2 separate regions of the Homo sapiens genome follow, and region 1 is linked to region 2. Evidence: fine-mapped expression QTL. A gene starts in region 2. The other region holds a variant in brackets. All regions are shown on one strand. Distances are between the middles of the regions.

Region 1 (12,246 bases), 43 kb before region 2:
GCTGGGGATGAGGGAACTGCCTCTAGCTTGTGACACCCCCACCCCCCGCTCTATTTTAGGCCCAGGAGAGGTGAGAAGGCGATTTCCCAGGAGGCGCTGACATCAATGTAGGGAACCAAGTGACTCCCCCCACCCCCAACCACCTGCCATGCCAGGCCCAGATGCTCAGTAAGGCTGAGCCAATTCTTCCTTCGCTCTGGAGACATCTTGAGAACCTCCTCCAAGATGTAGGCATGAGGAGGCTCCTGGGAATGAGGGCCTACTAGGTGGTATTCCTGGAAACTCATCATGAGCCCAGAGGGAGAGATTGTGCTCCCCATTTTACAGATGGGGAAACTGAGGCTCTGAGAGGTTATGTGAGCTTCTCAAAGTCACACAGCTGGTGAAAGGCACATCCCATACTCCATGGCCCCACTCCTCTTAGCCACCCCTAGTCCTACTTCCATCTCTGCCCTCCATTTGGGACCAGAGGGGACTGGTATATCTGGTCCCATGCACCCTCACCACACACCCCAGACACGAAGGTGGCTGTCCTGCTCCAGCCTGCCCATGTCCCAGGGCCACATCAGCAAGTCCCGATCAGGAGTGCCCCCCAGTAGGCTGGGTGAGGTTTGTCATTTCACAGTGCGAGCCCGGGGCTGGGAGAGTCTGGGTCCTCCAACATGTTCAAGACCACAGAGCAAGCCCAATCTGTGGTCCAGGCCTCTTCACCAGAGGCATGTTCCTACCACATCGGTGGCCCTGGGACCCTAGACTTCCTGTTGGGGAGACCTGATGAGCCCTAAGAGTGACTCTCCCTGGTGGCACCCTGGGCTAGTTCCAGTGGAGACTCGGTCATATGGCTCCCTGGCCCCCATAGCCACTTATATTCCTGGGTTCCCCGGCTCCCAGCAGATCTGGCTAGAACTTACTTTTTTTTTTTTTTTTTTTTTGAGACAGAGTCTGGCTCTGTCGCCCAGGCTGGAGTGCAGTGGCACGATCTCGGCTCACTGCAAGCTCCGCCTCCCGGGTTCACGCCATTCTCCTGCCTCAGCCTCCTGAATAGTTGGGACTACAGGTGCTCGCCACCACGCCCAGCTATTTTTTTTTTTTTTTTGTATTTTTAGTAGCGACGGGGTTTCACATGTTAGCCAGCATGGTCTCGATCTCCTGGCCTCGTGATCCACCCGCCTCGGCCTCCCAAAGTGCTGAGATTACAGGCGTGAGCCACCGCACCCGGCTAGAACTTACTATTTTTTTTTTTTCTTTTGGAGAGTCTCGCTCTGTCACCCAGGCTGGAGTAAAGTGGCAAGATCGCGGCTCACTTCAACCTCCACCTCTGGGGTCAAGTGATTCTCTTGCCTCAGCCTCCCGAGCAGCTAGGACAACAGGCATGTGTCACCATACCTGGCTAATTTTTTGTATTTTTAGTAGAGATGGGATCTCACCATGTTGCCCGGGCTGTTCTCACCCTCCTAAATTCACCATGTTGTCCAGGCTGTCCTCAACCTCCTAAATTCAGGCAATCTGCCTGCCTCCCAAAGTGCTAGGATTACAGGTGTGAGCCACCATGCCTGGCCTAGAACTTTCTTTTTTTTTTTTTTTGAGATTGAGTTTCGCTCTTTTTTTTTTTTTGAGATGGAGTCTCGCTGTGTCACCCAGGCTGGAGTGCAGTGGCGCCATCTCGGCTCACTGCAAGCTCCGCCTCCCGGGTTCATGCCATTCTCCTGCCTCAGTCTCCCGAGTAGCTGGGACTACAGGTGCCCAACACCATGCCCAGCTAATTTTTTTGTGTTTTTAGTAGAGACGGGGTTTCACTGTGTTAGCCAGGATAGTCTCGATCTCCTGACCTCGTGATCCACCCGCCTCGGCCTCCCAGGGTGCTGGTGGGATTACAGGGTGAGCCACCACCCCCAGCTGGAGTTTCGCTCTTGTTGCAATGGCATGATCTCGGCTCACCGCAACCTCCACCTCCCAGGTTCAAGCAATTCTCCTGCCTCAGCCTCCCGAGTAGCTGGGATTACAGACATGTGCCACCATGCCCAGCTAATTTTGTATTTTTAGTAGAGATGTGGTTTCTCCATGTTGGTCAGGCTGGTCTCGAACTCCTGACTTCAGGTGATCCACCCACCTCGGCCTCCTAAAGTGCTGGGATTACAGGCGTGAGCCCACCGCACCCAGCCGATCTTTTTTTTTTTTTTTTTTTTTTTTTTTGAGATGGGAGTCTCACTCTGTTGCTTAGGCTGGAGTGCAGTGGCATGATCTCGGCTCACTGCAATCTCCTTCTCCTGGGTTCAAGTGACTCTCCTGCCTCAGCCTCCCAAGTAGCTGGGATTACAGGTGTGCACCACCACGCCTGGCTAATTTTTGTATTATTAGTAGAGATGGGGTTTCGCCATGTTGGTCAGGCTGTTCTCAAACTCCTGGCCTCAAGCAATCTGCCTGCTTCAGCCTCCCAAAGTGCTGGGATTGCAGGCAATAGACCTTATTTTTTAATTTTTTGAGGGTCTCGCTCTGTTGCCCAGGCTGGAGAACAGTGGCACAATCATAGCTTCCTGTAACCTTGACCTCTTGGGCTCAAGTCATCTCCTGCCTCAGCCTCCTGAGTAGCAGGGACTACAGGTGGCGTCACCAAGCTTGGCTTTTTTTTTTTTTTTTTTTTTCAGACGGAGTCTTGTTCTGTTGCCCAGGCTGGAGTGCAATGGTATGACCTCGGCTCACTGCAACCTCCTCCTCCCACCGGGTTCCAGCAATTCTCCTGCCTCAGCCTCTCAAGTAGCTGGGATTACAGGTGTGCTCCACCATGTCTGGCTAATTTTTGTATTTTTAGTAGAGATGGGGTTTCACCATGTTGGCCAGGCTGGTCTTGAACTCCTGACCTCAAGTGATCTGCCCACCTTGGCCTCCCAAAGTGCTGGGATTACAGGTGTGAGCCACCGTGCCCAGCACTTTTGTATTTTTTGTAGAGATTGGGTTTCATCATGTTGTCCTGGCTGTTCTCAACACCTGGACTCAAGAGCCATTCAAGGCCAGGCGTGGTGGCTCAAGCTTGTAATCCCAGCACTTTGGGATGCTGAGGCGGGTGGATCACGAGGTCAGGAGATCGAGACCATCCTGGCTAACACGGTGAAACCCTGTCTCAACTAAAAATACAAAAAATTAGCCAGGCGTGGTGGTGGGCGCCTGTAGTCCCAGCTACTCGGGAGGCTGAGGCAGGAGAATGGGGTGAACCTGGGAGGCAGAGCAGCCTCCCAAAGTGCTGGGATTACCAGGCATGAGGCCGATGCTTGGCTAACAAAATTTCTTTTTGTAGAGACGGGGGTCTTTTTATGTTGCCCAGGCCAGTCTCGAACTCTTGAACTCAAGTGATCCTCCAGCCTCAGCCTCCCAAAGTGCTGGGATTAGATTACATCTGTGAACCCTGGCACCCGGCCTCGGCTAGACCTCTTGCCTCTCCCTTGATCACAGTCCCCAGTCCCTGAGGTTCCACCTCCCCTGTCTCATGCTTGCCTCAGCTCTCTTAGGAGCTGTGGGATCCCCACACAGAAAGCTTGCTTCACGTTCTTTCACCCACCGTCCCTCCTGAGGTCAGGGCTGTCTGTTTTCTCATTGGTGGCCCTTCATCAGACTGGGACTTCAGAAGAGCAGGGCTTGTCCTCCTCATCAGACCTGACCCTGATAGCAAGGGCTGTTTTCTGCTTAGATCGGGGCAGGCCTGTGTCTCCCCCTCAAACATAGGGTTCCCTGGGGGGCCCCACCTCAACTTCATAGCTATGGCTGGCTCCTTCGGTCCATCCATTGAGGCTGGGGCCACTATTTCTGCTGCCCTGATGCCACTCTTGGGGTTGCTCTTGCTGAGGGAGCTGTGGGGCCCTGAGGGGTGGGTCTCTGGCCTCCCTTAGGAAGCCCCTTCCCTAGGAGGCCGGAGCCTCCTTCCTTCTGCTGCTCTTCTAGCTCTTTAGCCGGTTCTCTCAAATTTTCCTGCATAAGGGCCAAGTTGGGGATGCAGGGCCAAGACCTTGTCTCCGCAAC[T/G]CCAGGTAAGGGAGAGGTCCTGGTTGCCCCCAGCCCTGGGGTGATACCACCGGCAGTGATTCCTGCCAGTGGAGGCCGTCCAGGCCTGGTGACCAGCCTTAAGTCCTGCAGCACAGACCATGCTAGTCAAGGGGGCAGGATTCAGGTCTCCAGGCTGGGGTCCCAATCCTGCCTCCCCCACAAACTGGCTGTGTGACCTTGAGCAAGCCCGCTGGCCTCTCTGGGCCTTGGTTTCCTCATCCACGACACAGGGGTTAGAAAACCACCCCCCTCACAGTGCTCCTCTCGGGGATGATGGCTGAGCTGCCCATGCTTGGAGCAGCGTCTGGCACATGAAAGGGGCTCAGTCACCCTGGGCTCGCACCGTCCAAGGCGCCGAGGAGCAAACCGGCTCCCTGGCCCTTGCCCAGGACCCCAGGCCTCTCTATGGCTTGGGGTCCTCGGGGTCCTCTCTCTACCCAGCACAGAGAGAACCTGTGCCTGATGTCGTGATGTGGAGGGGTGGCAGCAGGGGAAGTGCCTAGCATTTGGACAGGAAGTTCATCCTGCTTCCTCTTAGATGCCAGCCCAGGGTCCAAGGACCGTTCTTCTCATCTGCATAGCTCTCCCGGGAAACCTCATGCTCCTCCCTCTCAGGCGTCCAAGTGGCCCCTCTTTTAATCTCTGAAGCTCTCAGGCTTCACCAAGGGAGGAGTTGGGGGCACCTGGGGCACCAGGATCCCAGGCACACTCATCCTTTGGGAGGTCTGTGGGGCACAAATACAGTCACACCCATAAGGGCCCAAGTGCCACTTCTTTTCCACAAAAGGGATCCTCCTGGAGCTCAGGAGAGGGCCCTTGGGAGGGGGCCTGGGACAGGGGGTCTCACAGTGCCCCTCAGCAGCTTCATCCACAAATGCTCACCCGAGATGAGGACGCCAGTTACCAAGGGACACTGCCAGGTGGGAATTAGTGAGAATAAGCTTTATGTAAGTTTAGGAGGGAGGCCTCACAGGCATGTGTGCCTGTGGGTAATATGTTATTTGTTGAGACAATGTGCCAAGCTCTGTGCCACATACCTCACAAACACATCTGATTTCACTCTTGTGATTTCCTAGCGAGGTAGCAACTATGATTATCTCCATTTTTCGTATTTATTTATTTATTTATTTATTTTCGAGACAGTCTCGCCCTGTTGCCCAGGCTGGAGTGCAGTGGCACAATCTCGGCTCACTGCAACCTCTGCCTCCCAGGTTCAAGTGATTCTCCTGCCTCAGCCTCCCGAGTAGCTGGGATTACAGGCATGCCAGCATGCCCGGCTAACTTTTGTATTTTTAGTAGAGATGGGGTTTCACTATGTTGGCCAGGCTGGTCTCGAACTCCTGACCTCAAATGATCCGCCCGCCTCAGCCTCCCAAAGTGCAGGGATTACAGGCGTGAGCCACCGTGCCCAGCCTAGATTACCTCCATTTTTTAGATCAAGAAAACAGTTTGAGCTGGGCACAGCTGAAACTCCCCTGGGAAGGGGAGCCAAGATCCAGGATGAGAAGGAGTGCTCGGGTATACAGCACTCCTGCTGGTGGCAGGATAGGGAAAGACATAAAAGATTTGCTGGCAGTCACAGTATTTTATTATTGGAAAGGGTCCTGAAATCATCTCATCCAAGCCCCTTACTTAAAGACGAGGAAACTGAGGCCCGAGTAATAAAGGCATTTTTCTGAGGTCACAGTGAGTTGGAGGCAGCTAGCTCCTGCATTCCACCCAGCAGAAGGGAGTTGGGGTGGAGCTACCAATCGGTCACATCTGCCGAGAAGTGAAAGGCTCAGCGAGAAGAGGCAAGAACAAAGGCCTGGGGACCTAGTCTGAGTAAAGTAGTTAGGGCTGGAGGGCTCTTCAGGTGTCTCGGAGCTGACTCAGGGCAGACGGCAAGGCCTGTGCTGAATGAACGAACGAGGGAATGGGCAATGGTGAGGAAGGGCAGGGGGACAGGAGAACCAGGCCACTGAGGGGCTGCTGCGACCAAGGGAGCCAGGCTTCAAGGAGGAAAGAAAGGAGAAAAGGAACCAACTTTGGTCACCAGTAGCCTGTCCATGACCTTGGAATAGATGATCTTAGTGGAATGCTTCAGGCAGAGCTACCCAGGAAGGAAGTGTGGAAGGGAAGGAGGTGAAGAGGAGGCGGTAGGTATAGACCGCAGGAAGGAGCCAGAGAACAGAAGGTGGGAGCCTTCAAGTATTTGAAGTCGATTTACTGAATCAACTCAAGTGTTTTCCAGGAGAGGAGCATGGCATTTTGGGGCAGAGGGGAAAGGTGGCAAGTCTGAGAAGGAAACCAACAAGAGTGGTTGGCGAGGTGGGCTGGAGGGCCAGGGACAGACAGTGTGACTTGTGGAGGGAGGACACCTCTTCAGAAAGAAACGGCAACATGTTGAAAAGGGACTGACTGCAAGATAAGGCAATGCCCACTGGGTCTGGGTAAAAGTCATCTGGTGCGATGTGGAAAGGGGGCTGGAGTGGAAAGGAGTCTGAGCAGTGCTCACGCCAAGGAGCCACTGCGGGACCTCATTCACATCAAGCAGCACCCATCCATCCTGGGTCAAGTCTCAGGTGTTCTGGGTTCACCTCTAACCTGAGTCTACAGCCAGGAAGCCGCAATGGAGAAATGGCTGAGGAGTGTTCCAGCCTTGGGGTTTGGCCTGGCAGAGATGTCCAAGGTCATGATCATTGAGATAGGAGGGGAAGGCAAGGGTACACGGATGTGAGGTTCGGGGAATGGGTCCTGCAGTTGACAATGAGGGCACCCGAACCCGGCACCACAGGCTTTGTGTGAGCAGCAGGTAAAGGTATCCAAGTCTGAGACAGGGGCAAGGGGAAACTTCCTCATGCAGAGGGGTGGTGTCATGGGGAATGAGGCAACCCCATGTCACAAAAGGAAAGGGACGAACCCAGCAGCGTGCAGACATAAGCCACGGTCTGGCTTCAGGGAAGAGGAGTGGGCCCTTAACAGGAATGTCCGCCGGGGCAAAGGAGTTTTCTTGGGAGGGATGGAGGGGCATGTCCTCTGCAGGCGACCACTCCCCAGGCAGCAGAGCCAAGGAAGTGACCAGATGAGACTGGGTAAAGGAGGCTGGGCAGGGACAGAGGCAGCCCTGCTCCCTGGAGCCCTTGGGCAAGGCCGGCAGGAGGGTTGTGGCACTCACACATGTGTGACTTGCAGGAGGTCCCATCACACCATCTAGTGATTCTGTCCATCGCTGCTGGCCCGCAGCCCTGCCTTGGGTCACTGGAGGGCAGATCAAGGACCGACATATGGCATTCCAGCCCCATCTCTTTGCTATTTGTAATTAACAAATTTATTTACATTTCCTGAACCAAAATTAATTGTAAAATTTAACAGGAAGGGGGTAACATGACCTCTAAGGTGGGCTGTACACATAGTTGCTCTATTTCCAAACTAATAACTTGAGTCCTCACCCATAGCTGGGCCCCCCCTTCTTCCTTTGAAAGGAGACACAGAATAGCATCAGGCTTCCGGAAGCTTCAACATTTAAAGAGACAACTCTTTAAATGCACGGACGCAGAGAAGGGTGAGAAGAATCACGGTACAAATTGTAATGAAAGAAAAAGTGGCCAGAGAATCGATAGCAAACCCATTTCTGTCTCCAGATTAATGGCTTGGCTGCCAGAAATGGGGGGAGGTCCTTGGGGAAGGAGAGGAGGGAGCGAGGGAGGAGGGTGATGTGGAAGTTGGCAGGTGACACACTGGCCCCGGAACAGCCGAACTTCGGGCAGGCAGCTCAAGCTGAGGAGGCAGAGAAGGGGCGAGAGGGGTCCCAGAGGGGGCTCTGGCCACATCCTGGGCTCAGGGGAAAGGTCAGTGCTGGGCCCCAACTAAGTGCCTGGGGGAGGGAGCTCTGTGAGTGGTGCAGCCCAAGCCCCTCCTCTGCTTCATATGTTCCTGAGGATCTGTGTGCGGGAGCGTGGGGGGCTGGGGGAGGGGACAAACACAGTCATTTTGGAAAGCAGGAGCGGCCACATGCTCGTGAGAAAGGAGGCCGGGGTTGGGGGTGGAGCACACCAACAGCTAACCCGCGGCTCTGCAGAGAGGCAAGGGCCTGTGGAGGGCCAGGAAGCCGGGCCAGGACTCCTGCTGCCCCAGCTCCTTTGTGGTCCCTCCCCATGCCAACTTCGCCTCTGCCTCCTGGCGTGGGCGGCCAGCCTCAGCTGGGCAAGCCCACTGTAGACTCTGCCTGGTCAGGAACATGGCAGGAGGCAGGGGTAGGAGAGGGCAGCCCCCAGCCCAGATTCTCTCCCAAAGACCTGGCCAGTGGGAGGGGTGGCTCTGTCAGCTCCATGGAGCTGAGCGTGACAGCTGCTTGCTGGACTTCAAAGGCCAGGCCCGGGCCTCCTTCTAGCTCTTTTGGGGAAGTCCTGGGGTTCTGCCCCTCCTGCGTCCTGGTCAGCCCTGGCCGGGTGTGCAGCACCCAGCAGAGGAGTAAGTTGTATCTGTGGCCCTTCAATCTGGAGCTGCCTGGCCCTGTGAAGAGCCAAGCACCTTGGGGACTCGTAGGAGCAGCTCTCTGCCAGCATGGGGCTGGGGCTGGGGCTGGGGTTGGGACCAGGGCTGGGAGACAGGGAGACAGGGCACCTGGAGAGGCTGGGGGGCCCAGAGGCATCGGGAACAGCTGGCTCCCGCACTGGCTGGCAGGGGCTGCAGGAGGGAGGTAGACCTGCTCTCTACAGGTGCTCCCGAGGGCTGCACACTGGTAGCTGAGTACAGGGGAGCTGATGGCCAGCCTGGAGCTGTGGGGCAGCTGAGGAGCTGGCCAGCCTCCTGGGATACAGGGCCAGTGGCTGTACACTCAGAATCCTCAGGCCCTGGGGGCCACCCTTTCCCCAGCCAGGAGGGCTGTGTGGCCCAGAACTCTGCTGGTCTGTCTGTGGGCTGCCAGGGGAAGGGGTCTGGGAGAGAGAGGCAGGTCTGTGAGTGGCACAAGGGCTGGAGGGAGGCGAGGAGCCTGGACTCATGGCCTGTAAGGGGAAGAGAGGGAAGACGCTTGCCACTAGTTGTCCTGGTGCCGCAGGGGTTGGGGGCTATTGGGACAAAAAATGAAGCCTGTGGCCAGGAGGCCCCCACTCTCTTCTTAGCACTGCCACTGGGGAACTGAACCTTCCGCTTGTGGCCAAAAAGTGCCAGGTCTGGGCCAGAGGAGAGTTCCATAAAACCAGAGCTAGGCAGGAGGCATTGGCAAGCAGGGCTCCTGGACACTGGTATCCCTGGGGGGTCCACAAACACATCAACTGACACCCCCAGGTCCTGGCAGCTTGCTATAGGTCCAGGTACCTCACCAGTCCCTGCACGTTCAGCTGGTGCCTGCGTGCTGTCCACTGTCCCATCCTGCTCTGGGATACCTGATGCCTGGCAGCTGTCTTCTTTCCTTATCCTGGGAGATGCTGCCCTGGGATGGGAGGGCTGATGGGGGTGCAGAGTCTCAGGACAGAGAGGGTCACAATCAGAAGCTGGGGAACCTGACCACCTGTTGGGACAGAAACACTGTGAGCTGCAGGTTTCAACTTCACAGCAGGCCTGGGCCAGGGCTGAGGGCACAGGGAGAGCTGCCACAGCTGGCGGTTCATGTGCCGAGAGAGCTGCCTTCTCTGAGGCCCTGTGTGAAAGTCCTCCTGTTTGGGTCTAACCTGCCGCAGCAACCAGCACTGTGTGCACTTCTCTTGGCTCTGCAGCCTGTGGTTGGGGCCGGCCAGAGGAATAGGTTAGAGGCTATTCCATTTCATGACTTCACAGAGGAGGCTGTGCCCTTTGGCAGCTGAAGAAAGCAGCGCAGTGCCTGGCTGTGCAAGTTGAGCTTGAGGTGGAGATTTGGGGTGAGAGGTGAAGCCACAGCCCCAGGTGGGAGAGGGTCTGCCTTGCTGGCAGCAAGGGGAAGCAGGGCTCAGAGGGCCCTGGAATTCCCACCAAACCCCATGCAGTCCTTCTTTCTGGGGGTGACTTCTACAGAGGGGAAAGACTTTGCTTTTCACCTATCTAGGAGAGGCCCAAGCACTAACCCCCTGCTCCCTGGCCAGAACTGCTTATCAACCACATCAAAGCCTGTGGAGTTGGAAGGGAGCCACAGTGTAGTCTGGGTCTAGTCTTCATCAAGTGAAGCCACAAATGGAGGTCTTTTTATTTTTTTTGGCCAGCCCCAAAACAAACAGGACTGAGGATAAGGGGAAAGGAAGGTGAGAAAAGAGGAAAACATCACAGTCTGGTCCCAGCAGCCACCAACCTGAGGGTCTCTTCCCACCCAGAGGGCAACAGAGGAGAGAGCAGACACAGTTGTGCCTGCCAGCGTGGCACTCACCTGGGGAGGCCAGCCTGGAAAGGGATGTCTGCAAAGCTGTGGCTGAGCTGAGCAATGATCCTGTCCACTTCTGCATATAGATGGGCTTCCAGGGCAAAGCTCCGGTGCTGGGCACTCTGAAGATGCTGCCGGCGGGGGAGAGGAGCACAGGGCATTAGATGAGGCCTGGGGGGAGGGGGACACGGAAGCTGACCTCCCAGCCCATGCTCTGGCCCTGGAGGACAGCCATAGCAGCATAGAGATCGCATAGGAAGGACTCATCCCCAGTGAGCAGGCTCCCTCAGGGCACTCTGGGAGCAGCTGCTTAATGGGGAAGGGGCTCACCACATGGAGCTCCTCGAAGGCCTCCTGACAGCACTCGCAGTAGCCTTTCTTCCTCCTGGGCATGGTGTGGGCAGCTGATCGTGGGCTTGGCTCTCCATCCTTGGATTCTCTGGGGAGGGTACATAGTGCGGCAAAGTGGTTACTGCTGGGGCCCTTGGGGGGAGGAGCCACTACTTAGAGCCTGGAGCCTAGGTCAGGGAGGGGAAGGACCAAGATGGCCAAGGGGCTGTGCAGGCACCGGCAGGCAGGCCTTCCCTGAGCTTGGTACCAATCATCTAAGAATGGCAAGAGGGGAACAAGGAAGAAGACGTCTGGAGACCTCCCTGTGGGCAGCCTGTCTTATCTCTGTCCTCTCTCTCTTTTTTTTTTTTTTTTGAGAGAGTCTAGCTTAGTCACCCAGGCTGGAGTGCAGTGGTGCGATCTTGGCTCACTGCAATCTTCACCTCCTGGGCTCAAGCCATTCTCCTGCCTTAGCCTCCAGAGTAGCTGGGATTACAGGCGCCCGCCACAATGCTCAACTCATTTTTGTATTTTCAGTAGAGACGGGGTTTCACCATGTTGGCCAGGTTGGTCTCAAACTCCTGACCTCAGGTGATCCACCTGCCTTGGCCTCCCAAAGTGCTGGGATTACAGGTGTGAGCCACCGCGCCAGCCATCTCCGTCCTTCTCTTAAACGACAGGTGAAGATGGGATGGTGACGGCAGCAGCAAGAATCCCTTGTAGGAATTCCAACTCTGTGCTCAAACCTACACCCACATTCATGAGACCTGAAAGATGAAAGGGAAAAGGTCTCAACCACAGTGAAGGGACTGCTCTTCTTTTCCACCCTGAATGTCTCCCCAGCTTGGTTCAGTCTGTCCCTTCTCTCATGCTGCCTTGGATCTCTCACAGCTGTCCTCACTGTCCGCTAGGATTTTCAAACCTTCCTCAAACCTGACTTCTTTTTTTTTTTTTTTTTTTGAGATGGAGTATCGCTCTGTCACCCAGGCTGGAGTGCAGCAGCATGATTTCGGCTCACTGCAACCTCCACCTCCTGGGTTCAAGTGATTCTCTTGTCTCAGCCTCCCGAATAGCTGGGATTACAGGAACACACCACCACGCCTGGCTAATTTTCTTTCTTTTTTTTTTTTTTTTTTTTGTATTTTTAGTAGAGACAGGGTTTCACCATGTTGCCCAGGCTGGTCTCAAACTCCCGACCTCAGGTGATCTGCCCACCTCAGCCTCCCAAAATGCTGGGATTACAGGACTGAGTCACCACATCCGGCCAAGCCTGAATTCTTATCTGAATATCAGCCCCATATTTCTAACAACCAAAGGGCATTTCTATCTGGCTGTCCAGCAAACTCGACAAGTCCAAAACACTCCTTTTAAAGACTTCCTAAGTATGACACAAACCCCAGAAGATATACAGAAAAACTCATAAATTCAGCTATATACAACTTTAAAATATGTATGCATGGCAAAGAATCATTAGCAAATGATATGGTTAGGCTTTGTGTCCCCACCCAAATCTCATATTGAATTGTAATCCCTATAATCCCCAAGTGTCAATGGAGAGACCAGGTGGAGAT
Region 2 (12,246 bases):
TCCCAGCACTTTGGGAGATCAAGGTGGGAGGATCACTTGAGCTCAGGACTTCAAGACCAGCCTGGGCAACAAAGTGAGACTCCACTTCTACAAAAAAATCAAAATTTAATAATTTTTGACAATAATAGCAATAGAAATAGCAAATATATATCGCTATGCACAATACATTCTCAACAGGTCTATAAAGAAGATAAAATTATTATACCTGTTTTACAGTTATAATAATTACAGTTACAGGAAACTGAGGCACAGAGAAATCTTGTATGCCCAAGATCATACTGTTAGTAAGGGGTAGAAATGGAATGAAGGATACCTCTTACTTGTTTAGTGAAAGTTAAAAACAAACACAAAAAACATACAGAGACTGTTACCACATCGGCATATAGATGGATAAATGTTGAGATAGTCTTGTCTAAATTTATACAGAATTTCAGGAAAGCCAAATATTGCTGTGGGGCTCCCCAAACTTATACTTCATTTTCAAAAGTATTATTTATTTCAATAGCTTCTGGGGTACAGGTAGTTTTTGGTTACCTGGATGAGTTCTACAGTGAATTATGAGATTTTAGTGCACCTGTCACCCAAGCAATGTACACTGTACCCAATATGTAATCTTTTATCCCTCACCCCTCTCCTAACCTTCCCCCTCATCAAATCCCCAAAGTCCATTATATGACTTTGCATGTCTTTGCATCCTCACAGCTTAGCTCCCACTTACAAGTGAAAACTAAATGGTATTTGGTTTTCCATTCCTGAGTTACTTCACTTACAGTAATGGCCTCCAGCTCCATCCAAGTTGCTGCAGAACTTATTTTGTTCCTTTTTATGGCTAAGTAGTATTCCATGGTGTAAAAAATATAGAATTTAAAATACAGGAGATCCAACACAGGAAAGAGGCAAAAAGAATTCCACAGAATAACGAGGGGAGATCGGAGGATGAAATCAGTGCAATAGGCCTAGTACACAGCCAGGCCAGACTGGAGTACTAAAACGCTATGTCTCCAAGACAAATTGACAGATCCTCTGATGAGCTTGAAAGTATTGAGAGAAGGCCCATACTCTGGTGAAGAGTTTGGACCTGAATTAGTGATCCATACATAAAAAAACAAAGAAAATCTCCTAGCTTATTATATAGCTCAGTGATGAATAATGTTTTGTTTGTTTGTTTTTTTGAGACGGAATCTTTCTCTGTCGCCCAAGCTGGAGTGCAGCGGCATGATCTCGGCTCACTACACCTCTGCCTCCCGGGTTCAAGTGATTCTCCTGCCTCAGTCTCCCAAGTAGCTGGGATTACAAGCGTGCACGACATCCTACTGATTTTTGTATTTTTAGTAGAGACAGGGTTTCACCATGTTGGCCAGGCTGGTCTCAAACTCCTAACCTCAGGTAATCCACCTGCCTCAGCCTCCCAAAGTGCTGGGATTACAGGTATGAGCCACCGCGCCCGGCCGAATAATGTTTACATAATGAAAATAATGTCGGCGGGGCGTGGTGGCTCACACCTGTAATCCCAGCACTTTGGGAGGCGGAGGCAGGTGGATCACGAGGTCAGGAGATGAAGACCATACAGGCTAACACAGTGAAACCCCATCTCTACTAAAAAAAACCAAAAAATTAGCCGGGCCTGGTCGTGGGTGCCTGTAGTCCCAGCGACTCCAGAGGCTGAGGCAGAAGAATGGCATGAACCCGGGAGGCGGAGCTTGTAGTGAGCCCAGATCACGCCACTGCACTCCAGCCTGGGCGACAGAGCAAGACTCTGTCTCAAAAAAAAAAAAAAAAAAAAAAAGTCAATACAAATGACTAAATCAAAATTACTACATATATACTGGGGAGATAAAAGGAAAGGTGGGAAATGCATGTGCGTTTGTGTGTGGTGCAGAGAAGTGGTAGGACAGAAAAAATCTTTATTGTCCATAGAAGACAGTCAATAGATATAATTCAAAATTGACTGGGCATGGTGGCTCACGCCTGTAATTCCATCACTTTGGGAGGCCGAGGTGGGCAGATCACTTGAGCCCAAGAGTTCAAGACCAGCCTGGGCAACACAGTGAGACCCCATCTCTATAAAAAAAAAAGAAGACAGGCCGGGTGTGGTGGCTCACACCTGTAATCCCAGCACTTTGGGAGGCTGAGGAGGGCAGATCGTGAGGTCAGGCAATCGAGACCATCCTGGCTAACATGGTAAAACCCCATCTCTACTAAAAATACAAAAAATTTGGCTGGGCGTGGTGGCTCATGCCTGTAATCCCAGCACTTTGGGAGTCTGAGACGGGTGGATCACGAGACCAGGAGATCAAGACCATCCTAGCTAACACAGTGAAACCCCATCTCTACTAAAAAGACAAAAAATTAGCCAGTCATGGTGGCACGTGCCTGTAGTCCCAGCTACTTGGGAGGCTGAGGCAGGAGAATCGCTTGAACCCAGGAGGCAGAGGTTGCAGTGAGCCGAGATGATTGTGCCACTGCACTCCAGCCTGATGAGAGTGAGACCGTCTCAAAAAAAAAAAAAAAAAAAAAAAGAAGACATAATTCAAAATGGAAAACAATTAAAACAGTATGAGCATATTATTACAGAAATAAGGTGGTAGCTTCTAGAAGAAATAGTTAAAAGCTGTAAATGGCTGTTTCTTAGGAAGTGGGAATCAGACAGCCTGAAAGGGGATTAACTCTCATGCCTCCTGTTTTTTGTGAGAAACTTTGGCTTTTTTTTTTTTTTCTTTTTTGAGATGGAGTTTCATTCTTGTTGCCCAGGCTGGAGTGCAATGGCACAGTCTCGGCTCACTGCAACCTCCACCTCCTGGGTTCAAGCAATTCTCCTGCTTCAGCCTCCCAAGTAGCTGGGATTATAGGAGCCTGCCACCACGCCAGCTAATTTTTTTTTTTTTTGAGACAGAGTCTTGCTCTGTCGCCCAGGCTGGAGTGCAGTGGTGCAATTTTGCTCACTGCAAGCTCCGCCTCCCGGGTTCACGCCATTCTCCTGCCTCAGCCTCCCGAGTAGCTGGGACTACAGGTGCCTGCCACCACGCCCGGCTAATTTTTTGTATTTTTAGTAGAGATGGGGTTTCACCATGGTCTCAATCTCCTGACCTCGTGATCCCCCTGCCTCGGCCTCCCAAAGTGCTGGGATTACAGGTGTCAGCTACCACGCCCGGCTCTGTTTTTTGTATTTTTAGTAGAGACAGGGTTTCACCACGTTGCCCAGGCTGGTCTTGAACTCCTGATCTCAGGTGATCCGCCTGCCTTGGCCTCCCAAAGTGCTGGGATTACAAGTGTGAGCCACCACACATGGCCTGCCTTTTAAGCTATGTCAAGAATCAAACAGGAAGCCAGGTGTGGAGACATGCACCTGAAGACATAGCTACTTGGGAGACTGAGGCAGGAGATTGGGAGACTGAGGCAGGAGAATTGCTTGCACCCAGGGCTTTGAGGCTGCAGTGAGCTATGATTGTGCCACTGTACTCTAGCCTGGGTAACAGAGCAAGTTCTTGTCTCTAAAATAAAATAATAATTTAAAAAAATTTAAAGAATCAATCTGGAGGCCAGGTGTGGTGGCTCACGCCTATAATCCCAGTATTTTGGGAGGCTGAAGCAGGTGGATCATGAGGTCGGGAGTTCAAGACTAGCCTGACCAACATGGTGGAACCCTGTCTCTAGTGAAAATACAAAAATTAGCCGGGCATGGTGGCGTGCTCCTGTAATCCCAGCTACTCAGGAGACTGAGGCAAAAGAATTGCTTGAATTCTGGAGGCAGAGGTTGCAGTGAGCCGAGATGGTGCCACTGCACTCCAGCCTGGGCGACAAAGCGAGACTCTGTCTCAAAAAAAAAAAAAAAAAAAAAAAAAAATCAAACTGGAATAAAAACGAAAATAAAAACCCTCTAAAATCCACACATTATCATCTTATAGTAAATTTTAAGAACAAATATAAAAATGTATAATCTAAAATATTGGGCTGGGTGCAGTGGCTCACTCCTGTAATCCCAACACTTTGGGAAGCTGAGGAGGGTGATCGCTTGAGCCCAGGAGTTGAAGACCGGCCTGGGCAACATGGCAAAACCTCGTCTCTACAAAACAAACAACAAAAAAAAATTAGCTGGGCGTGGTGTTGAGTGCCTGCAGTCCCAGCTACCTGGGAGTCTGAGGTGGGAGGATCACTTGATCCCGGTGAGGCCAAACCTGCAGTGAGCCATGATTGCTCCACTGCACTCCAGCCTGGGTGCAAGACCTCAAAATAAATAAAATAAAACATTTTTTTCTTTCATCAATATAATCCATAGGTTCACATAATCTAAAACATCTAATGAGAAAAGGAGGTCACTTACAAAGCAGCAAGAATAAAAAAGAAATGCTGAAGAAAACAAGGAGAAAATACTGTAATTTTTCAATGTGTTGAAGGAAAAAAAATTGACTTAAATTTTACTACAAGGCTGAAATAAATATATTCTTAGTTTATCACACAAAGCCTCCTTTTGAAAACACTCTTGAAGTTCTCCAGAGAAACAGAAGGGGGAAAAAAAACCAACAAGAGATGGGAAGAATGAATAACTCAGTAAATGAAGTGGATTACTGTTTAAAAGGCAACAAGCCGATGGCATATCTGTTAACAATCCAGAAGTAAAAGTAGACGGTATTTTTTTTTTCTTTTTTTTGAGACGGAGTCTCGCTCGGTCGCCCAGGTTGGAGTGCAGTGGCGCAATCTCGGCTCGCTGCAACCTCCGCCTCCTGGGTTCAATCAATTTTCCTGCCTCAGCCTCCTGAGTAGCTGGGACTACAGGCACGCCTCACCACGCCCGCCTAATTTTTTGTATTTTTAGTAGAGATGGGGTTTCACTGTGTTAGCCAGGATGGTCTCAATCTCCTGACCTCGTGATCCGCCCGCCTTGGCCTCCCAAAGTGCTGGGATTACAGGCGTGAGCAGCCGCGCCCGGCCAACTAGATGATATTAACTAAAGGGGCAGTACGGAGGGAAGTGCCATGTGCTAAAATACTTACCTAATTAGGTAGCAGTGTTTAACTTAAGGATTTTATTGTAAACAACTATGAATGTATTAATTTATATATTTAATAAGTCACTCTATCCTGACTCCACATCTGTCTGTTAATCTTGTTCATAATATGACTCTTACTTGACCTTTATCATGAATCCCAAAACGGTCTATGATGCTGCGTCCATACACACACACACATAAAACCACTAAGTGGGCCTGGTGAAGTGGCTCACACCTGTAATCCCAGCATTTTGGGAGGCCTAGGCAGGAGAACTGCTTGAGGCCAGGAGTTTGAGACCAGCTTGGCCAACACAGCAAGACCCCATCCCAATAAATAAAATGAATAAATAAGTACATAAAAACACTGAGTGATCGAAAACTCCAACAGGGGGAACATTTTTCGGTCTTCTCCAAGAGACCCTGGGGCAATTTTCACCTCACGTCCCTAGTTCTGTCCTGTTACCCACCTAGGTCCGGGGCCCGGAGCCTACTCTCAGCCATGGAACTCTCCAGCTCGAGGCAATCGTCTCCTGAGAAAGGACATAACAGCAACTCAACCATCTTCACCAACCCTTGGAACTTCCATGCCTCCCGCCCACTACTGTCTCCCAAAACGCGCACAGAAACGCGACTCCTGGGAACAGCAAGACTCAACTCCATTCCGACCTACATCCCGCGACTCCCGCCAGGCTCTTGCCCCTCATGCCCTCCGCCTCCTTTCAGACTCCGTTCAGTCAACGGCCGTGACCTCTTGGCCACCTCCTGTCCATCTCAATCTCCATACATCCCTCCAGGCTGTTGTCCCCTACGTTCCTCTGCCACCTTCATTCCTCGGTCCCCTCAACTCCTGTGGCTCCTTCCCGGCCCCTATACCCTCCTCAGCTTCGGCACCTACCCGCTGGTCACTTCCTAAGCCCCCTCCACGACTCCGCACCTCGCCTCAGCTATTAACGACCCCTTCCGCCTTTCTTTCTCCCCTTCCCGGCATCCGTACCCTTTCCCGGTTCGCTCATCAAATGCCGGCTCCTTCTCGGCCTCCGTACTCCTTCCTCAGAGGCCTCCGTATTACATTCGCGAGCTCCATGAGCTCTTCCCGATTCCACAGTCCTGGTTATCTCAGGGCAGCTACAGCATCAATCTCTTGGCGTTTTCGGCCGCGGCTTCAGTTTAAATTTCCTGCCGGCTCCACCCCTAAAAGAACGCCGTAGCTGCGAGATCCGCCCTACGGTGTCCTTGGAAGGACAATATTAGTTTCGCGATTCCTCTTTCCGTTCCCCCACCGCCTACGTCTTCTCAAACCGTCTCTTCATTTCTTGGCTCTTCACTGGCTAGACGGCTTTGCCCCTTAATGGCCCTCAAGTTGAGGACTAGTGGTCGCTTTTTAGTGATTCTTCACACTGAGCTGCATTGAAATTCCTAGAAGTTTGAATACTAAATAACAAAATAAGCCTAACACTTGCAGAGCATTTGCAGTTTACATAAAGATTTCACTTACACATCATTTCATCTTCACATTTTTGTCCCCCTCCCGTTCTTCAATTATTACCTGCCCAACAAAACTTCTCAAAAGACGTATCTTTATCCCTCACTTCCCATCTTTTCTTCAACCCATCTAATTAGACTGCTAATTAGAGATCAAATTTGATCTAATAAGAGATCATTCAGTGGAGAGCTGGGGACCTCCCCACAAAAACTGTACTTATCCAGGTCAACTGTGATTTCCACAGTCTGAAATACTATCCTTATCATATCCAACTTATAGATGGACTATTCCTTCTTTGAAATACTTTCTTCTTTTTGCTTCCATGACTCAGCACTCTACCGTTTTTTTCCCTATCTCAATGGTTCCTCCTCAGTCCCCTTTGCTGGATCCAAAGCCACTGTTCACCTATATATTTTGGAGTATGCCAACGCTTTAGCCCTTATCCCTCTCCCTTATCTCCCTAGGAGATCTCATCCAGCTCCACAGCTTTACAATTCAGCTCTGCCACACCTTCAGATTTTCTGTAGCTCTGACCTGTCTGATCTCCAGACTCACATATTCAAGTGCCTACTGGCTATTTCAATTTGGATGTCTAATAGGCACCTCAGGCTGAACACATTCAAAACAGAACATTTGTTTCGCTGCCCCTGTCAAAAAACCACCTGTTCTCCCCCCAGGTCTTCCCCTCTCAGTAAAATGTTACTGTTTACTCAAATGTCACAATCATTCACCCAGTTGCTCAAACCAAAAACCTAGAAGTTGTCTTTCAGTACTTTCCCTTGTGCCCATCCCCACTCCAAGAAAAAAATCCTACTAACTCTGCCTCCAAAGTACATCTGGAATCAGACCACCACCACCCTAGTTCAAGCTGCTATCATTTCTTGCCTAAAGTACTGCGGTCAATTCTTCACTTCTACTCCCGAGTAGCTTCCTATCTCTCCCCAGTATAATCCATTCTCCATTCAGCAACCAGAGTGATAGTTTTTATATTTATTTATTTTTTTATTGAGAGGGAGTCTCGCTCTGTCGCCCAGGCTGGAGTGCAGTGGCGCAATCTTGGCTCACTGCAACCTTTGCCTCCCGGGTTCAGGCCATTCTCCTGCCTCAGCCTCCCGAGTAGCTGGGATTACAGGTGCCTGCCACCATGCCCGGCTAATTTTTGTATTTTAGTAGAGTCGGGGTTTCACCAGGTTGGCCAGGCTGGTCTCGAACTCCTGACCTCAGGTGATTCATCCGCCTCGGCCTCCCAAAGTGCTGAGATTACAGGTGTGAGCCACCGCGCCTGGCCCAGGGTGATATTTTTTAAACACTGGTAGAGGTATATACAGTACATAAACTTGGTATCTCTTCCAGTGGGACTCCTCCCTGAGGAAGCTTATACATCTCAGCCCTGATGAACGAACGAAGCCTTGGCCATATGACTTGCTTTGGCTCATGAAAAAAGAAAAAAGTGACATCACTTCCAAGCAGAAACTTTAAGAGGCAAGATGGTTCAGCATGTTCTTTTTTCACATGTGTGACAGAATTTGTATAATAAAGGTATCTGCCTCAGCATTGTTTGCAATACCAAAAGATCAAAAGCAACGAAAATATTGATTAACAACGGGCAGTAGGTTAAATAAATTATGGTGTAGTCATACTGTGCAACACTATGCAACTCCAAAAAATGAAAATACTTTAAAATATAAATGTATTTAGGGAATCCTAGCCAGAGCAATCAGCAAGAAAAAGAAACAAAAGGCATCCAAATAGGTAAAGAGAAAATCAAATTATCTCTGCTTACTGATGATATGATTCTATAGCTAGAAAACCATGAGGACTCCACCAAAAGGCTCCTAGACCCAATAAATTACTTTAATAAAATTTTAGGATTAAAAAAAAGTCAACACACAAAAATCAGTAGCATTTCTATACACCAATAACGTTCAAGCTGAGAGCCAAATCAAGAATGTGATCTCATGTACAACAGCCACACACACAGGCTGGGCATGTTGGCTCACACCTGTAATCCCAGCACTTTGGGAGGCTGAGGAGGGTGGATCACTTGAGGCCAGGAGTTCGAGACCAGCCTGGCCAACATGGTGAAACCCCATCTCCACTAAAAATACAAAAATTAGCCTGGAGTGATGGTGTGCAACTGTAATCCCAGCTATTCAGGTGGCTGAGGCACAAGGATCACTTGAGCCCAGGAGGCGAAGATTGCAGTGAGCCAAGCTCACACCACTGCATTCCAGCCTGGGTGACGAGACTCTGTCAAAAAAAAAAAAAAAAAAAGCGCCAGCCGGGCATGGTGGCTCACACCTGTAATCCCAGTACTTTGGGAGGCCGAGGCGGGCAGATCACGAGGTCAGGAGATCGAGACCATCCTGGCTAACATGGTGAAACCCCGTCTCTACTAAAAATACAAAAAATTAGCCAGGTGTGGTGGCTGGTGCCTGTAGTCCCAGTTACTTGGGAGGCTGAGGCAGGAGAATGGCATGAACCCGGGAGGCAGAGCTTGCAGTAAGACGAGATCACCCCACTGCACTCCAGCCTGGGCAACAGAACGAGACTCTGTCTCATTAAAAAAAAAAGAGCCACACACACAAAACAATCCCTAGGAATACATCTCACCAAGGAGGTGAAAGATCTCTACAAGAACTATAAAACACTGCTGCTGAAAGAAATAATAAAAGACACAAACGAATAGAAAAACATTCCATGATCATGGATTGGAAGAGTCAATATCATTAGAATGTCCATACTGCCCAAAACAATCTACAGATTCAGTGCTATTCCTATCAAATTACCAATGTAATTTTTCACAGAATCAGAAAAAAAAACTATTCTAAAATGCATATAGAATGAAAAAAAGAGCCTGAATCGCCAAAGCAATCCTAAGCTAAAAGAACAAAGCCAGAGGCATTACATTACCTGACTTCAAACTAAACAAGGCTACAGTAACCAAAACAGCATGGTAGTGGCATAAAAATAGACACATAGACCAATGGAACAGAATAAAGAACCCAAAAATAAAGCTGTACACCTATGAGTAATGGGGAAAGGACTCCCTGTTCAATAAATGATGCTGGGAAAACTGGTTAACCATATGCAGAAGAATGAAACTGGACCCCTACCTCTTACCATATACAAAAATTAACTCAAGGTGGATGAAAGACTTAAATGTAAGACATCAAACTAAAAATTCTGGAACAAAACCTAGGAAATACTGTCTAGATATCAGCCTGAGTCCTCAAAAGCAATTACGACAAAAAAAAAAAAAATTGACAACTGGCACCTAATTAAACTAAAGAGCTTCCAAAGCACAGCAAAAGAAACTATCAATGAAGTAAACAACCTACAGAATGGGAGAACATATTTGCAAACTATGCATCTGACAAAGGACTAATATCCAGAATCTATAAGGAACTTAAATAAATCAACGACAACAAAAAAACCTAATTAAAAAGTGGGCAAAGGCCAGATGCAGGGGCTCATGCCTGTAATCTCAACACTTTGGGAGGCCAAGGTAGGAGGCTTTACTTGAGCTCAGGAGTTCAAGGTCAGCCTGGGCAAAATAGGGAGGCCCATCTATATAAAAATTTTTTTAAATTAGCTAGGCCTGGTGGCATATGCCTGCAGCCCCAGCTACTTGGGAGGCTGAGGTAGGAGGATCACCTGGGCCAGAAGGTCAAGTCTGCAGTGAGCCAAGATCATGCCACTGCACTCCAGCCTGAACGACAGACCAAGACCTTGTCTCAAAAAAAAAAAAAAAAAAAAAGGCAAAAACATGAGCAGACATATCTTAAAAAAAGACATACAAGTGGCAACAAACATGAAAAAATGCTTAATATCATTGATCATCAGAGAAATGTAAATTAAAACCACAATGAGATACCATCTCATACCAGTCAGAATGGCTACTATTAAAAAGCCAAAAGATAATAAATGTTGGCCAGTCTATGGAGAAAAGGTAATGCTTATATACTGTTGGTGAGAATGTAAATTAGTTCAGCCCCTGTGGAAAGCAGTGTGATTTCTCAAAGAACTAAAAATAGAACTATCATGTGACCCAGCAATCCCATTACTTGGTATATACCCAAAGGAAAATAAACCATTCTACCAAAAGGACACCTGCACTATGTTTATTACCACACTATTCACAGTAGCAAAGACATAGAAACAACCTAGGTACCCCGTGAATGGTGGATTGGATAAAGTAAATGTGGTACATATACACCATGGGATACTATACAGCCATAAAAAATAATGAAATTGCTGGGGGCAGTGGCTCACGCCTGTAATCCCAGTACTTTGGGAGGCCGAAGTGGGCGGATCACTTGAGGTTGGAAGTTCGAGACCAGCCTGACCAACATGGAGAAACCCCATCTCTACTAAAAATACAAAATTAGCCGGGTGTGGTGGCGCATGCCTGTAATCCCATCTACTCGGGAGGGTGAGGCAGGAGAATAGCTTGAACCTGGAAGTCAGAGGTTGCGGTGAGCTGAGATCTTGCCATTGCACTCCAGCCTGGGCAGCAAGAGCAAAACTCAATCTCAAAAAAAAAAAAAACATCATGTCTTTTGTAGCAATGTGAGTGTAGCTGGAGGCCATTCTCCTAAGCAAATTAGCACAGAAACAGAAAACCAAATATTGCATGTTCTCACTTTTAAGTGGGATCTAAACCCTGGATACACATGGACATAAAGATGAGAACAATAGACACTGGGGACTCCAAAAGGAGGGAAGGCTGGAGAGAGGAAGGTGGGTAATATGTTCACTATCTGGGTGATGGGATCACTCGAAGCCCAGGCCAGGTGTGGTGGCTGATGCCTGTAATCCCAACACTTGGGACACCAAGGCCCGAGGATCACTTGAGCCCAGGGGTTTGAGACCAGCCTGGGCAACATAGGGAGAACCTTTCTCTACAATAAATAAAATAAAAAATTAGCTGAGCATTAGGTATGCACCTGTGGTCCCAGCTATTGGAGAGGCTGAGGTGAGAGGGTCGCTTGAGCCCAGGAGGTCAAGGCTGCAGTGAGCTGTGATTGCCCCACTGCAGTCCAGTCTGGGCAACAGAGGGAGACTCTGCCCCAGCCCACCCTGCCCACCCCCCACCGACAAGCCCAAATTGCAGCATTGCACAATATACCCTTGTGACAAACTTGCACATGTACCCCCAAATCTAAAAGTTAAATTTAGGCCAGGAGTGGTAGCTTATGCCTGTAACCCCAGCACTTTGGGAGGCCGAGGCAGGCAGACTGTTTGAGACCAGGAGTTCGAGACCAGCCTGGGCAACACAGCAAGACTCTGTTGCTTAAAAAGAAAAAAAAAAAAAAAGAAAGAAAGAAAAAGAAAATAAGGAAGTAAGAAAGAGAAAATAAGAATAATTGAAAATGAATTAGCTAAGTGTTCAACTTGAGAAGTCAGAAAAATGAACAAAACAGTGAGCCCAAAGGCTGTAGACAGTCAGAAATAGCAAAGGATAGAAATTAATGAAATGGAAAAGAAAAAGTAGATTCTTAAAAATCAATGTGGAAAAGACAAATAACACAAAAGAAAAATACGGGCAATACAAACATGAGACATTTTAAGGGCTGATAAACATAAAGCATGCTACGACTCACTAATAATTAGGAAAATACCAATTTAACAATAATTAAATGCCACTTCATAACTTTTGATCTGCAAAAATTAATGTGTATTAAAACCAAATTCTAGTAAAAATGCAAAGAAAAGGGTGGGGTATAAAACTGGGGCAAACCTTGGGAGAGCAATTTAGTACCCAATAAGGTAC

What was found.
Region 1: its variant is fine-mapped to the expression of DBF4B in whole blood (INTERVAL, PIP above 0.99).

What each region holds. Positions count from the first base shown.
Region 1 is chr17:44,745,621-44,757,866 of GRCh38, reverse strand. It overlaps DBF4B (DBF4B-CDC7 kinase regulatory subunit), which reads right to left. Exons shown (of 14, transcript NM_145663.3): 11 at 10,676-10,784; 12 at 10,352-10,476; 13 at 9,402-9,526; 14 at 5,603-7,272. The coding sequence ends at 6,614. Among named protein-coding and RNA genes, the nearest start is that of ADAM11, 7.2 kb to the left of the region's middle. RefSeq lists an enhancer at 4,307-4,807. The variant T/G (reference allele first, on the strand shown) is at 4,012.
Region 2 is chr17:44,702,575-44,714,820 of GRCh38, reverse strand. DBF4B (DBF4B-CDC7 kinase regulatory subunit) reads right to left here and starts at 6,156. Exons shown (of 14, transcript NM_145663.3): 1 at 5,982-6,156; 2 at 5,455-5,517. The coding sequence starts at 6,000. RefSeq lists enhancers at 5,322-5,835, 5,836-6,350.